Linked DNA regions of Homo sapiens: region 2 is linked to region 1. A link means that fine-mapping ties the variant in region 1 to the expression of a gene that starts in the linked region. Tissue or cell type: whole blood. Region 1 holds a variant in brackets; the other region holds the start of a gene. All regions are shown on one strand. Distances are between the middles of the regions.

Region 1 (8,102 bases):
GGCGTGAGCCACCGCACCCAGCCTAACACTTGGTATTTTCTCAGAGCATCACTCTTCTTTTTTTTTTTTTTTCCCTCTGTACCTCAATGGGATGCAAAGGGAGCATCAAGTTTCCCCTTACCCTTCTCCTTCTCCTTCCCTTTCCTCTCCTTCTCGTTGTCCTTCCTCCTTCTTTTTTTTTTTTTTTTTTTGGACAGAATCTTGCTCTTTTGCCCAGGCTGGAGTGCAGTGGTGTGATCTAGGCTCGCTGCAACCTCCGCCTCCCAGGTTCAAGCAATTCTCCTGCCTCAGCCTCCCGAGTAGCTGGGATTACAGGTGCCTGCCACCATGCCCAGCTAATTTTTGTATTTTTAGTAGACACGGGGTTTCACCATGTTGGCCAAGCTGGTCTCGAACTCCTGACCTCGTGATCCGCCCGCCTTGGCCTCCCAAAGTGTTTGGATTACAGGCGTGAGCCACTGTACCTAGCCACATCACTCTTAATAAAACAAATGCAGATGAAAATCACCACACTGAGATATCATTTTTCACATACCAGATTGGCAACAATCAAAAAGCTTGATAACTATCTTGGCAAGAGTGTGGGGCATTCTTATCCACTGCTAGTGTAACTGGAAATCTGTGCCACCTAATCCCAAAATTCTGGGATTACAGATGGGAGACACCATGCCCGGCCTTTTTTTTTCTTTTTTAGTTTTCTTCCTCCAGTGCCAAGGAATTGGCTTTTTTGCGGGGTGGGGGGATACAGAGTCTGGCTCTGTCACCCAGGTTGAAGTGCAGTAGCGATATCTCAGCTCACTGCATCGTACACCCTCCAGGTTCAAGCCATTCTTTTGCCTCAGCCTCCCACGTAGCTGGGATTACAGGCACATGCCACCATGCTCGGCTACTTTTTGTATTTTAAGTAGAGATGGGGTTTCTCCATATCAGCCAGACTGATCTGGAACTCCTGCCCTCAGATGATCCGCCTGCCTCGGCCTCCCAAAATGCTGGGATTACAGGTGTGAGCCACTGCACCTGGCCTGGATTGCATTTTATGCTCCAGAGCTCCCTGTTCAATCAGATTGAGGCAAAATTTAGGTGAACTTACATCTTTACTTGGTTTCTTTCCCTGCCCTATCCTGCTTTCCCCACTCCCCTAGGAAGTCGCTTACACAAGAATTCCTGTCTCAGGCTCTGCATCTAGGCACCCAACCTAAAATATCCCTATGGGCAGTTCTGGCTCCCAGAGGGAATTTCTGCTACCAGTAACAGCCACACATCTCATCAGGGGCCTGAAGATTTCACCTTCTCCAAAAAGTCCTCCCTCCCAGACCTGGACCCTCACATTCTGGCAGTAGGTCATTTGTTTAACAATAAGGAGTTTGGATGCCTACATTGTATTAGGCACTGCGCTAAACCCTTTATGTGCATTAGCTCATGAAACCCTCCCAACAACCTAATTTGGAAATTCTATTTTAATCTCACAGATAAGGAAGTTGGGCTCAAACAGGTTGAGTGGCTTGCTCGCACGGTTAGAAAGTGATGAGAGGCCAGGTGTGGTGGCTCACACCAGTAATCCCAGCACTTTTGGAGCCCAAGGTGGGAGGATCGCTTGAGCCAAGGAGTTCAAGACCAGGCTGGAGGCCAAGAGTGGTGGCTCATGCCTATAATCCTAGAATTTTGGGAGGGTGAAGCAGACAAATCACCTGAGTTCAGGAGTTCAAGGCCAGCCTGGCCAGTATGATGAAACCCCATCTCTACTAAAAATACAAAAATTAGCCATGTGTTTGGCCAGGTGCGGTGGCTCATGCCTGTAATCCCAGCACTTTGGGAGGCTGAGGCGGGCGGATCATGAGGTCAGGAGATCGAGACCATCCTGGCTAACACGGTGAAACCCCGTCTCTACTAAAAATACAAAAAATTAGCCAGGCGTGGTGGCAGGCACTTGTAGTCCCAGCTACTCGGGAGGCTGAGGCAGGAGAATGGCATGAACCCGGGAGGCGGAGCTTGCAGTGAGCCAAGATCATGCCACCGCACTCCAGCCTGGGCGACAGAGTGAGACTCTGTCTCAAAAAAAAAAAAAATTAGCCAAGTGTGGTGGTATGTGCCTGTAATCCTCAGGAGGCTGAGGCAGGAGAATCACTTGAACCCGGGAGGCAGAGGCTGCAGTGAGCCGAGATTGGGCCACTGCACTGCAGCCTGGGAGACAGAGCGAGACTCCATCTCAAATAAAATAAAAAAACAACAACAAGAAAAAAACAAAAACCCAGCCTGAGCAACGTAGTGAGACCCAGTCTCTATGCTATAAGAAAAAAAATATTGTTTTTAAAGGGCTGAGTGTGGTGGCTCATGCCTGTAATCCCAGTACTTTGGGAAGCCACGGCAGGAGGATTGCTTGAACCCAGCTGTTCGAGACCAGCTTTGGCAACATGGCAAGACCCTGTGTGGTTGCACACACCTATAGTCCCAGCTACTTGGGAGGATCACTTGAGCCCAGGGGTTGGAGGCTGCTGTGAGCCGTGATTGCACCACTGCACTCCAAACTGGGCAACAGAGTGAGACCCTGTCTCAAAAGAGAGAAAAAAAGAAAAAGAAAAAAAAAAGAAAGTCGTGGCAGCTGAGCGGATTTGTCTAAGTTTAATCCTTGGATTTAATCACTAGACTCTGTTCTTTTTTATTTTTTGAGATGGAGTCTCGCTGTGTCACCCAGGCTGGAGTGTAGTGGCATGATCTTGACTCACTGCATCTCCTGCCTCCTGGATTCAAGCAATTCTCCTGCCTCAGCCTCCTGAGTGGCTGGGATTACAGGCACGCGCCAGCACGCCCAGCTAATTTTTGTATTTTTAGTAGAGACAGGGTTTCACCATGTTGGCCAGGCTGGTCTCAAACTCCTGACCTCAAATGATATGCCCACCTCGGCCTCCCAAAGTACTGGGATTACAGGCATGAGCCACCATGCCCGTCCGACTGTGCTCTATTTTATTGTTATTTTTTTGAGATGGAGTTTCACTCTTGTTGCCAAAGCTGGAATGCAGTGGCATGATCTCGGCTCACTGCAACCTCCACCACGTGGTTTCAAGCAATTCTCCTGCCTCAGCCTCCTGAGTAGCTGGGATTATAGATGCCCACCACCATGCCCTGCTAAGTTTTTGTATTTTTAGTAGAGATGGGTTTTACGTGTCGGCCAGGCTGGTCTCGAACTCCTGACCTCGTGATCCTACCGCCTCAGCCTCTCAAAGTGCTGGGATTACAGGCATGAGCCACCATGCCTGGCCGACTGTGCTTTATTTTATAACAGTTTGTGTGTATGTGTGTGTAATGGCTCTGTGTACCCCAGATGGTGAGGCCACGTACAGATTTTTGGGTCTGCTGCTGCACTGAGGGCTTCATTTTACTAAAAACCTTCCTTGAGTTTCTTTGCTCCTCAGGCAAGGAGATGCCAGAGCAGCCTGGAAGCTACCTCTCCTCTACTAACCATACTGCCCTAGGAGGTATAGGGTGGAGCATAAGGCCTCTAAGCTCCTTGGGGGCACACTGTTTTCTTGAGCCCCCACCAAACCCGCAGTTGCAGGCATCCCTACTTCCCACTTCACTGCAGAGCCCAGGACCTGCATTGCTGAGAACAGCAACAGTGAGAGGCAGTTCATCACCTCCCTGGAGGCCTCCTAGGTTCACAGAAGAAACAGCAGGCATTGAAGTGGGAGAAGGAGGATGAGACCTGGGCCAAGTGTAGATGGAGAATGACTCCAGTGGGAGAAGACTGAGGGAAGCAGACAGTGTGAGGAGAAGGTGGGTGGCGAGAGCTGAGCAGAAGGTTGCTCTTCATTCATTCAACCAATTGGGTTTTTTTTTTGAAACAAAGTCTCTCGCTCTGTC[G/A]CTCAGGCTGGAGTGCAGTGGTGCAATCCCAGCTCACTGCAACCTCCACCTCCCGGCTTCCAGCGATTCTCCTGCCTCAGCCTCCTGAGTAGCTGGGATTACATGCACCCACCACCATGCCCAACTAATTTTTGTATTTTTAGTAGAGAGAGGATTTCACCATGTTGGCCAGGCTGGTCTCGAACTCCTGACCTCAGGTGATCTTCCTGCCTCGGCCTCCTAAAGTGCTGGGATTATAGGTGTGGGCCACCACACCTGGCCAATCAATTGTTTTTAACCACCTACTGTGTCCGGAATTGGTGGGTTCTTGGTCTCACTAACTTCAAGAATGAAGCCACGGACCCTTGCCGTGAGTGTTACAGCTCTTAAGGTGGTGCGTCTGGAGTTTGTTCCTTCTGACGTTCGGATGTGTTCAGTTTCTTCCTTCTGGTGGGTTCGTGGTCTCCTTGGCTCAGGAGTGAAGCTGCAGACCTTCACGGTGAGAGTTACAGCTCTTAAGGTAGTGCGTCGGGAGTTGTTGGTTCCTCTCGGTGGGCTCCTAGTCTTGCTAGCGTCAAGACTAGAAGCTGTAGACCTTTGCGGTGAGCGTTACAGCTCATAAAAGGAGTGGGGACCTAAAGAGTAAGCAGCAGCAAGATTTATTGCCAAGAGCGAGATAACAAGACCTCCCCAATACCACAGGGGATCCTAGCAGGTTGCCGCTGCTGGCTCCGCAACCTGCTTTTATTCTCTTATCTGGCCCCACCCACATCCTGTTGATTGGTAGAGCTGAGTGGTCTGTTTTGACAGGGCGCTGATTGGTGTGTTTACAATCCCTGAGCTAGACACAAAGGTTCTCCACGTCCCCACCAGATTAGTTAGATACAGAGTATCGACACAAAGGTTCTCCAAGGCCCCACCAGAGTAGCTAGATACAGAGTGTGGATTGGTGCACTCACAAATGCTGAGCTAGACACAGGGTGCTGATTGGTGTGTTTACAAACCTTGAGCTAGATACAGAGTGCCCATTGGTGTATTTACAATCCCTGAGCTGGACATAAAGGTTCTCCACGTCTCCACCAGACTCAGGAGCCCAGCTGGCTTCACTCAGTGGATCCCGCATTGGGGCTGCATGGTGGAGCTGCTTGCCAGTCCTGCGCCCTGCGCCCGCACTCCTCAGCCCTTGGGTGGTCGATGGGACTGGGCGCCGTGGAGCAGGGAGCGGCGCTCGTCGGGGAGGCTCTGGCGGCACAGGAGCCCACGGCGTGGCTGGGGAGGCTCAGGCATGGCGGGCTGCAGGTCCGGAGCCCTGCCCCGCGGGGAGGCAGTTAAAGCCGGGCGAGAAATCGAGCGCAGCGCCAGTGGGCCGGCACTGCTGGGGGACCCAGCACACCCTCTGCAGCCGCTGGTCGGGGTGTTAAGCCCCTCATTGCCCGGGGCTGGTAGGGTCGGCCGGCTACTCCGAGTGCGGACCCGCCAAGCCCACACCCACCCGGAACTCGTACTGGCCCGCAAGCACCGCGCACAGCCCCGGTTCCCACCCACGCCTCTCCCTCCACACCTCCCTGCAAGCTGAGGGAGCCGGCTCCGGCCTTGGCCAGCCCAAAAAGGGGCTCCCGCAGTGCAGCGGTGGGCTGAAGGGCTCCTCAAGTGCCGCCAAAGCGGGAGCCCAGGCAGAGGAGGCGCGGAGAGCGAACGAGGGCTGTGAGGACTACCAGCACGCTGTCACCTCTCACTACCATGTCCTCAGCACTGTTCTAAGGCCTGAGGATACAATGGTGAACAAACCAAACATCCTGCTTTAATGGAGCAGGATGGGAATAATGACGATAATCATAATGGTTAATACTTTTTGAGTATTTACTATGGAGTCAAGCATTTATCCTACCCTCACAACAATCTCAGATATTTGATACTATTATTAACTTACTTTATAGATGGTTACACAGAGTTAGAGCAGGGTCCATCTCCATTGTGACTGACCTCAGTGCCTCTCAGCCTCATTATTTTGTAAATTTATTTTTTTTTAAATTTTATTTGTTTTTTGAGACAGAATCTCGCTCTGTCACCCAGGCTGGAGTGCAGTGGCACGATCTCAGCTCAGTGCAATTTCCGCCTCCTGGCTTCAAATGACTCTCCTGACTCAGCTTGCCGAATAACTGAATTACAGGCTCCTGCCACCACGCCTGGCTAATTTTTGTATTTAAAAAATTGGCCATTGGCGGCCGGGCACTGTGGCTCATGCGTGTAATCCCAGCACTTTGGGAGGCCGAGGTGGGTGCATCATGAGGTCAGGAGATCAAGACCATCCTGGCTAACACGGTGAAACCCCCGTCTCCACTAAAAGTACAAAAAACTAGCTGGGCGTGGTGGCGGGTGCCTGTAGTCCCAGCTACTCAGGAGGCTGAGGCAGGAGAATGTCATGAACCTGGGAGGCAGAGCTTGCAGTGAGCCGAAATGGTGCTACTGCACTCCAGCCTGGGAGACAGAGTGAGACTCCATCTCAAAAAAAAAAAAAAAAAAAAAATTGGCCACTGACTGGGCACGGTGGCTCACGCTTGTACTCCCAACGCTTTGGGAGGCCGAGGTGGGTGGATCACCTGAGGTCAGGAGTTGGAGACCAGCCTGAACATGGTGAAACCCCGTCTCTACTAAAAATACAAAAATTAGCTGGGCGTGGTGGCACATGCTTGTAATCCCAGCTACTCAGGAGGCTGAGGCAAGAGAATCACTTGAACCTGGGAGGCGGAGGTTGCAGTGAGCCGAGATCACACCACTGTACTCCAGCCTGGGCAACAGAGTGAGACTCTGTCTCACAACAACAATAACAAAAAAATTGGCCAGGCTCATCTTGAATTCCTGACCCCGAGTTTTCTGCCTGCCTTGGCCTCCCAGAGTGCTGGGATTACAGGCATGAGCCACTTCGTCCGGCCCTAATTTATATATATTTTAGAGACGGGGTCTTGCTATGTTGCCCAGGCTGGTCTCAAACTCCCAAGCTCAAGCCATCCTCCCACCTTGGCCTCCCAAAGTGTTGGGATTACAGGCGTGAGCACCTGTGCCCAGCTTTAGGCTCCTTATTAACAACAGATTTGGAAAGTACATTCTTGTAAGAAAAATTCAAACAATACAGATAAAGCTCAAGTTCTCCCCGCTTGTCCCCATGCTTAGCAGTCTCTCCCTAGCATGCGTTCGCTTCCAGCCCTGTTCCTGTGTATCCACACACTATCTGTCCATAAACATTATTTTTTATTTGAGGGGCTTCCCATACATATTGCTCTACAACTTGCTGCTTTTCCCTTAACATGATGTCCTGAACATCACTCCCTACTGAACATATAGAGCATCTGTCTTGCATGGATGTGCCTAGTTTAGTTTTCCAGTTGTAAACCAAAAAGCACCAGATACTGGTCTCAATCAATTTACAAGTTTATTTTGCCAAAGTTAAGAATGTGTGCACCTGGGAGACAGGTCTGTACCTTTCTCCAAAGATGATTTTGAGGGCTTCAATATTTAAAGGGGAAAGGTCAGATATTGGGGAAAGAGGAATTTTTTTTTTTTTTTTAGACAGGGCCTCACTGTGTTGCCCAGGCTGGAGTGCAGTGGTGCAATCTCAGCTCACTGCAACCTCTGCCTCCCGGGTTCAAGCGATTCTCCTTCCTCAGCCTCCCAAGCTGCTGGGACTACAGGTGCGCGCCACCACGCTCAGCTAATTTTTGTATTTTTAGTAGACGGGGTTTCACCATATTGGCCAGGCTGGTCTTCAACTCCCGACCTCATGATCCACCCGCCTCGGCCTCACCAAAGGGCTGGGACTACAGGTGCGAGCCACCGTGCCTGGCCTGAAAGAGGAAATTTTTAAAAGGCATGGGTAGGTAAGAGGCAAATGGCTGCATTCTTCTGAGTCTTTGATAAGCCTTTCACATGTTAGAGGGGGATAGAGGACTAGTCACTTATGCATTCATCTAGCTCAGTGAATATGCATTTTTACATAAGAAAAAATAAACATAGGGCAGAGGAAGCAATGAGATATGCATTTGTCTCAGGTGAGCTGAGAGATGACTTTCAGTGCTGTCAAAGCCCAGCACCTGTGAAGATAAGCTATAAATTTACATTGTCACTGAAATTCCACACAACTGTTTTAGGGTACAGATTTGGGGGCACACAAGGAATTTCCTAGTGGGCAAGTTGTGAGGGCCAGGCCATATCTAGCTTTTTTATCTTTGTAGTTATCTTGTTTAAGAATAAAATGGGAGGTAGGTTTC
Region 2 (8,102 bases), 720 kb before region 1:
CTCCAGAGTAGCTGGGATTACAGGCGCTCGCCGCCACGCCCGGCTAATTGTATTTTTAGTAGAGACGGGGTTTCACCGTGTTAGCCAGGATGGTCTCGATTTCCTGACCTCGTGATCCGCCTGTCTCGGCCTCCCAAACTGCTGGGATTACAGGCGTGAGCCACAGCGCCCAGCCAACAGTTTTTATTTTATTGACTTCTCATCAATGTTAACAAGCATTTTCTAAGTAGTAAGACAGTCAAGGCACTTCTCAGAAAATGAGCAAATCAGGATATCCATCTCTTGCTCTTTCAAGGAGCTCAGACTCTAATAGCTATAAGCAGGCCTGTGACTTTACAATTTTTCATGTAAGGCAACACACAAGCAGGAATAATATATTTGCAACAAATATAACCATCAAAGTGCAGTACCTGGAATAGGTAGATCCCCAAAACAACTCAAAAGAAAAATGATCAAAAGAAGGTTGTGGGTGGGTCGCGGTGGCTCACACCTGTAATCTCAGCACTTTGGGAGGCTGAGGCGGGCAGATCACCTCATGTCAGGAGTTAGAGACCAGCCTGGTTAACATGGTGAAACCCCGTCTCTACTAAAAATACAAAAAAAAATTAACCAGGTGTAGTGGCAGGTGCCTGTAATCCCAGCTAATCGGGAGGCTGAGGCAGGAGAATTGCTTGAATCCAGGAGGCGGAGGTTGCAATGAGCCGAGATCGCACCATTGCACTCCAGCCTGCGCAACAGAGCAAGCCTCTGTCTCAAACAAACAAACAAAAAGATGCTTGTGAATAGGCAATTTAAAAGTTTTCTGGGCCCTGGAGGGTTCATTTTCCCTTCCTGCCACTTAACTAGCTGAGCAACATGACCTGGGAGGAGTTAGACTATTAGAGTTTACCCTGAGAGAGGCCACAAGATGCACACACGGATAACCTCTTCAGGGTACAATGGCATTAGTGTGTTAGGAGAGGTAAGGGACAAAGTTCAACAGAAGGCTGGGTGTGGTGGCTCATGCCTGTAATCGTAGCACTTTGGGAGACCGAGGCGGGTGGATTACTTGAGGTCAGGAGCTAGAGACCAGCCTGGCCAACATGGTGAAACCCCGTCTCTACTAAAAATACACAATTAGCTGGGCGTGGTGGTGGGCGCCTGTAATCCCAGCTACTTGGGAGGCTGCAGCACAAGAATCGTTTGAACCTGGGAAGTGGAGATTGCAATGAGCCAAGATCACGCCACTGCACTACAGCCTGGGCAACAGAGTGAGTGAGACTCCATCTCAAAAAGTTCAACAGAGGAAAACTTCAGGACCTCAGGGCTGGCCCATTCGGAAAGGCCCTCAGAGGAGCTTGCCATTTGAGCTGAATCTTGGTCTTGAACTCCTGGCCTCAAGCAGTCCTCCCGCCTCAGCCTCCCAAAAGTGCTGGGATTACAGGAATGAGCCACCACTCCCAGCCAAAATTTTTTTTTTTTTTAATTAGCTGGGTTTCAAGTTCTTCTGCTCTGACCAAAAAAAATTAGCTGGGTGTGGTGGCACACACCTGTAGTCCCAGCTACTCGGGGGCAAAGATGGGACAATCACTTGAGCCCAGGAGGTCAAGGCTGAAGTGAGCCCTGATCATGCCACTGCACTCCAGCCTGGGCAACAAAGCAAGACCCTGTCTCAAAAAGAAAAAAAGAAGTATGATAAAGATAAGCCTTTGTATCAGTTTCATGCATTCTCCTTCTGCCTTCTCTTCTCACTTGAGTGCTCCAGGGAACATGAGTGCAAATCAGATGCATCTATTAGTTGCAAACAAAAAACCTGGATGCTTTAGTTAACCTCAAGATTTGGTTAGCTGGGTACAGCTAAAACTAATTATACAAGATCCAAGTCTTCCCTTTTCACCTCATTACCACCGCCCTTTTTTGTGTTTAAGCTACACGTAAATACAGAACATTCTGTAAGATTGAAAAGTCAGGAAATAGTTCCTGCCCTAGTATTGGAGGAGAGGGTGCCAGTGCCTCGACGCTGAAGAATGAAATACAAGGGAAACAGCAACCACCGTGTATGCGGCAAGCCTCTCAGCTGTCAGAATCTATTCCCTGCTGTCTCTGCCAGTAACTCATGCTGGGCTACCAATCCCCAGCTTAGTCCCTTTCTCAGAGATCCTGATAATTTCAGTTTGTCAACTGCAAGGGCAGTCTGTTCCTCCACTCACTTTGACCAAGATGGGCTTCTTTGTGTACAGGCGCATTTTTAGAGGCAGGACCAGGTCCACAGGGAAGGAAATTACAAAACACAGGATTCTGCCCCAGATGAGGCAACAGCTTTCTAAATCTTAGTACTGTCCAATCTCAGAGTGAGATTATTTGGGAAACAGCTCTCAATCCCTGCAGTTGTCTCAGCTGGTTATTTATGCCTTGGGTGGAGCTGGGGTGACCTCTGAGTTCCCCTAGGGTCGATGGCCGAGTGGGAAGGCTCTATCACTGAAGTGGACCCAATACTAGAAACGGATCCAGTACGATCTGATCAGGTTTGCCTAATCCAAGGGCCTCAATGGAAAATGCCTCCCAAGGCCAGGCACGGTGGCTCACGTCAGTAATCTCAGCACTTGGGGAGGCTGAGGTGGGTGGATCACCTGAGGTCAGGAGTTCAAGACCGCGCTGGCCAACTTGGCGAAACCCGTCTGTACTAAAAATATAAAAATTAGCCGCGCATGATGGCGCACTCCTGTAATCCCAGCTACTCGGGAGGCTGAGATGGGAGAATCGCTTGAACCCGGGAGGCGGAAGTTTCGCTGAGCTGAGATAGCGCCATTGCACTACAGCCTGGGCGACAAGAGCAAAACTCCGTCTCAAACAAAACAAAACAAAACAAAACAAAACAAAACCTGTGCCTGGCAGCCTGGAGCCGGTTCTGGTCTCCGTCAAACCAAAGGCATCAGTTTCCTCCACTCCTGTCCACCAATCGCCAGATATTCTCATTTTCTTCAGAAGCTCGGAATCCACATTTTTAAGTGAAATCACCCATTTTAATGTTAGCAACTTATTTCAAAGTGTTTTAGATACTATAGACCAAAAGAGGTATGGGCTGTGACCGTAAGCCTGATTTGGCCTCTGACGGCCAGTTTCTGACCACAGTTTTGGAGGGAATTTCTGCTTCCAAGGTCAAGTTTCTCCTAAATGCCCACTAGAGTTCGTGGGGTGGAGTGAGGAAGGATCCGCGACACCGGATACAAACAGAAGCTCTCCTTCTCCCGGAGTCCGATCAAGGCTCATCCCAGGTCCCTAATCTCTTCCCTTTGTGGGTTTTGAGTCAAGGAACAAAATTCAGGGCCAAGCCCCTACAACCTCCTCCACAGGCACCAGTGCTCGAGAGACGACCGCCAAGCACCCCGCCCTTTGCAGCACTCACCGACCATGGCTCTGGTGCAGTCCGGGGCGCTGATTGGCTGGGCTCGTGGTTGCCGGGGCGACCCTGGCCGGAACTAGGCTCTCGGTGAGCTGGGCGGCTCCGGCTGCAACCTTGTGGGAGTCGCGTGTGTAGTGCACGGTGCATTCTCTCTTATATATCCTGTCCGGCCCGTTTGAGGTGGACAGCCTACAAGGGCGGGACCCAACGCCTGAATCCTGGGGTGCTGGGCGGAGGATGCTGAGGCTGCAGCTCCAGGAAGGGAGGGAGCCTGGGGGATGAAGGAGGGGCCTCTCCACTCTCACCCGCCGGAGCAACTGGTGGAAGTCAAGAAAAGTCTCTCGGGGCTGGGGGAGGGGATTGTAGGGGTGTGTGTGACAGAGGCCTCAAAAATCTGGCTGGGGGTGCTAAGGCAAGCCCATCTGCGCACTGTGCCCTGAGGTGCAAGAGGATGCAGGGTGGAAGTCGTCCCAAGAGAGTCCAGGGATCAAGTGGGCATGCCCTTTTAGCCTTGGCACGAAATGGAGCAGAAAAAGAGCCGGATGCGGATTACTGTGGTGCCCTAGGCTCAGATTCTGCTGAGTCACTGTGACTGCGGATTTGGAAGGCTGAGAGTCCTGGGGAGACATGCTCCGTGGAGACGAATTTGTTTCTTCCTTTGCAAGATTCAGATTCTGCACTTGGGGGCCCATACAACACACTTCCCTGGGTGCATGCCACTGCACCACCCCTGCTCCTCAAGGCAGGTAATGGGGGAACTAATTGGTTTTGTTTCCCATGAGCTAAGGCAAGGCTGGTGTGGAGATAGCAGTTATAGGGAAGCATATTAAAGAATAGCCAAAACGGGACCAGGCGCGGTGGCTCACGCCTGTAATCCCAGCAATATGGGAGGCCGAGGTGGGTGGATCACCTGAGGTCAGGAGTTCGAGACCAGCCTGGCCAACCTGGTGAAGCCCCGTCTGTACTGAAAAATTAGCTGGGCGTGATGGCGGGCGCCTGTAAGTCCCAGCTACTCGGGAGGCTGAGGCAGGAGAATCGCTTGAACCCGGAAGGCGGAGGTTGCAGTGGGTCGAGATCGTGCCACTGCACTCCCGCCTGGGTGACGAAGTGAGACTCCGTCTCAAAAAAAACTCTATAAAGTAAAAGTTACTGTAAAGAAGGAGATATACTCTCAGTAGGTGAAGGAAAAAGAACTAGAGCTTTAAAGTGGTAATTAACCATCAGAAGAATCACAGATGGGGGAGGTGAGGATGACACAGGGCCCTTCCGTTGTCCCTCCAGTGCAAAAGTTAAGGAGGCACCAGAAAACTGGTTTCCAACTCCCGACCTCAGGTGATCCTACCGCCTCGGCCTCCCGAAGTGCTGGGATTACAGGCATGAGCCACCGCGCCCGGCCCCATCGTGACATTTTTGCATTCATTTTGATGCAACAAGAGAGGACTATATTATTTACACGTATTTACAAATTACTTTGGGAGGCTGAGGCAGGAGGATCACTTGAGCCCAAGAGTTTGAGAAAAGCCTGAGCAACAAAGTGAGACCCCATCTGACAAAATAGTATAAAAGGACGTTTTAAAAAAGGGCTAGGTAGGCAGCCCTGTCCAATAGAACTTTCCCTATCTGTGCTGCCCAAGTAAGGTAGCCACAAGCTTCAAGTAGCTATTGAGCACTGGAAATGTGGCCAGCAGCCAGGCGTGGTGGCAGGCGCCTGTGTCCCAGCTACTCAGGATCTGAGGCAAAAAGATCGCTTGAGCCCAGGAATTCAAGGCCGCAGTGGTGGACTCAATAAAAGAAAAAAAATGGAAATTAAAAAAAAAAAAGTGGCCAGTGGACTGAGGAAGTGAAGTTTTAATTGTAATTAAATTAATTTTTTAAAAATTTATTTTTTGAGGCGGGGTTTCACTGTGTCGCCCAGGCTGGAGTGCAGTGGCAGGATCTTGGCTCACTGCAATCTCCATCTCCTGGGTTTAAGCAATTCTTGTGCCTCAGCTTCCTGAGTAGCTAGGACTACGGGCATGCACCACCACAGTCAGCCACTTTTTGTATTATTCGTAGAGATGAGTTTCACCATGTTAGCCAGGCTGGTCTCAAACTCCTGACCTCAGGTGATCTGCCCACCTCGGCCTCCCAAAGTGCTAGGATTACAGGCATGTGCCACTGCGCCTGGCTTTAATTAAATTTAGATAGCCACATGTCACTAGTGTTTGGAAAGACCTGAGCTGGTTCAGATCGAGGCCGCAGTGTGCTGGCTATTCTATCTCTCACTCTTCTAGTGAGATTGTTTTCTCAATCACCAGTCTCCCTGACCCATCCAGAGGTGGGGCTCAAAGCCACAAAGCTCAAGTGTCGTGTTCGGTCGTTGGTTTCCAGCATGGCCAGTTCCCATCCTCAGTCATCTTGTTAACATGAACTATATAGGGGCCCATCCCAAGTCATCTCATTAGCATAAACCATCAGGAGTGGTCTGAGAAGCCCACAATGAATAAGATGGACACTCCTATCATTTGGGATTTAGGGGCTCAGGGGCATGATGATAGTTCACTGCAGCCTCGACCTTCTGGAGTCAAGCAATCCTCCTGCCCCAGCCTCCTGAGTAGCTGAGATGACAGGTGCATGCCACCGTGCCTGGCTAATTTTTTTTTATTTTTTTGGTAGAGATAGGGTCTCACTATGTTGCCCAAGCTGGTCTCAAACTCCTGGGCTCATGTGATCCTCCCGCTTTGATCTCCCAAAGTGCTGGAGTTACAGGTATGTGCCACCACTCCTGGCCAAATTTGTTACTACACAGTGGTAAAGACAGACATTTGAGGTGGCAGTGAACCAAGATCATGCCACTGCACTCCAGCCTGGGCAACAGAGGGAGATCCTGTCTCAAAAGAAAAAAAGAAACTTACTGGCCGGGCACAGTGGCTCAGGCCTGTAATCCCAGCACTTTGGGAGACTGAAGCGGGTGGATCACTTGAGCTCAGGAATTGGAGACCAGCCTGGCCAATGTGGTGAAACCCCGTCTCCACTAAAAATACAAAAACATGAGCTGGGTGTGGTGGTGGGCGCCTCCAGTCCCAGCTACTCGGGAGGCTGAGGCACGAGAATCGCTTGAATTCAGGAGGCAGAGGTTGCAGTGAGCTGAGATTGTGCCACTGCACTCCAGCCTGGGCAACAAGAGCGAGACTCCATCTCAAGAAAAAAAGAAAAAGAAAAAGCTGCTGTGGAGCATGGGCGAGCACTGCTGCCTGGACAAAGACCGAGGGTCCTCGGGAGGGCAGTACTGATGTACAGGTTTCCAGCAGGTCGGCGTGTGTGTTCTCTCCTGCAGGTCTGCAGCCAGGCGTGCCAGGAGAGGGGGAGTCTGAGGGATTGATGTAGGTTGGGAAAGCATGATGAGAGGAGACAGAGTGGGGGCTGTGAAGAAGAGAGCGACTTGATGGTGGCGGTAGTTACACAGATGTATGTATTTATTAAAATCCGCTGAAAAGTACATTTTAAATACAAGCATTTTATTGTATGCATGTTATTCCTCAACAAAGTCCATTTTTAAAAAGTAGAGTGGTTGGAGTGATGACGAACATTATGAAAGGGCTTATTGGCAGAGAAAAAGTAGAGGGGTCCAGAGACTCAAGTTCCTAACGAGGCTGAAGTAAGAGTGGGGGATTAAATAAGGGCAAAAACTGAGAGAATAAAAAAAGTGGGTTGTTTGGGGCCAGGTGCGGTGGCTTATACCTGTAATCCCAGCACTTTGGGAGGCCAAGGCAGGGGGATCGCTTGAGCCCAGGAGTTCAAGACCAGCCTGGGCAACATAGTGAGACCCCCCCGCAACCCCCCCCACCTCTGCCATCTCTAAAAAAATTAAAAATTAGCTAGGTGTGGTGGTGTGCACCTGTGGATCCAGCTACTAAGGAGGCTGAGATGGGTGGATCATCTGAGCCTGGGAAGTCGACGCTATAGTGAGCTGTGACTGTACCACTGCACTCCAACCTAGGCAGCACAGTGACACCCTATCTAAAAACAAAAAGAAAAAACAAAAACCCAAGTGGGTTGATTGGGAAACACAGGAGATAGAAGTTAAAATCATGGGGAAACATCAGTCAAATCACAGTGTGGGACATTCTACAGGACAACCAACCTGGTTTATCCCATAATTCAGTGCTATAAGAAAAATGAAGGAGTGTATATTGATCAGGATTTTCCAGAGAAACAGAACCAATTGAATTTCTATAAATATATAAAAAGCAATATATTGCTGGGTGCAGGGCTCACACCTTGTGATGGTTAATAATGAGTGTCAACTTGATTGGATTGAAGGATGCAAAGTATTGATCCTGGGTGTGTCTGTGAGGGCGTTACCAAAGGAGGTGAACATTTGAGTCAGTGGGACTGGGAAGGGCGGACCCATCCTCAATCTGGGTGGGCACCAACTAATCAGCTGCCAGTGCGGCCAGAATATAAAGCAGGCAGAAAAACGTGAAAAGACTAGACTAGGCCTGGTGCCGTGGCTCACGCCTGTAATCCCAGCACTTTGGGAGGCCGAGACGGGTGGATCACTTGAAGTCAGGAGTTCAAGACCAGCCTGGCCAATATGGCAAAACTCATCTCTGCTAAAAATACAAAAAAATTTAGCTGGGTGTTGTGGTGCATGCCTATAATGCCAGCTACTCAGGAGGCTGAGGCAGGAGAATAGCTTGAACCCAGGAAGCAGAGGTTGCGGTGAGCCGAGATCACA

The links. PIP is the estimated chance that this variant, and not a neighbour inherited with it, causes the effect.
Region 2: it holds the start of NQO1, and the variant in region 1 is fine-mapped to the expression of NQO1 in whole blood (TOPMed, PIP above 0.99).

The regions. Positions count from the first base shown.
Region 1 is chr16:70,445,789-70,453,890 of GRCh38, forward strand. LOC124903708 (a long non-coding RNA gene) reads right to left here. Exons shown (of 2, transcript XR_007065104.1): 2 at 7,249-7,679. Among named protein-coding and RNA genes, the nearest start is that of FCSK, 4.8 kb to the right of the region's middle. The variant G/A (reference allele first, on the strand shown) is at 3,859.
Region 2 is chr16:69,723,048-69,731,149 of GRCh38, forward strand. It overlaps NQO1 (NAD(P)H quinone dehydrogenase 1), which reads right to left and starts at 3,513. Exons shown (of 6, transcript NM_000903.3): 1 at 3,386-3,513. The coding sequence starts at 3,392. NQO1-DT (NQO1 divergent transcript) reads left to right here and starts at 3,680. Exons shown (of 2, transcript NR_186363.1): 1 at 3,680-4,128. RefSeq lists enhancers at 2,996-3,988, 3,075-4,274, 3,521-3,780, 3,989-4,982.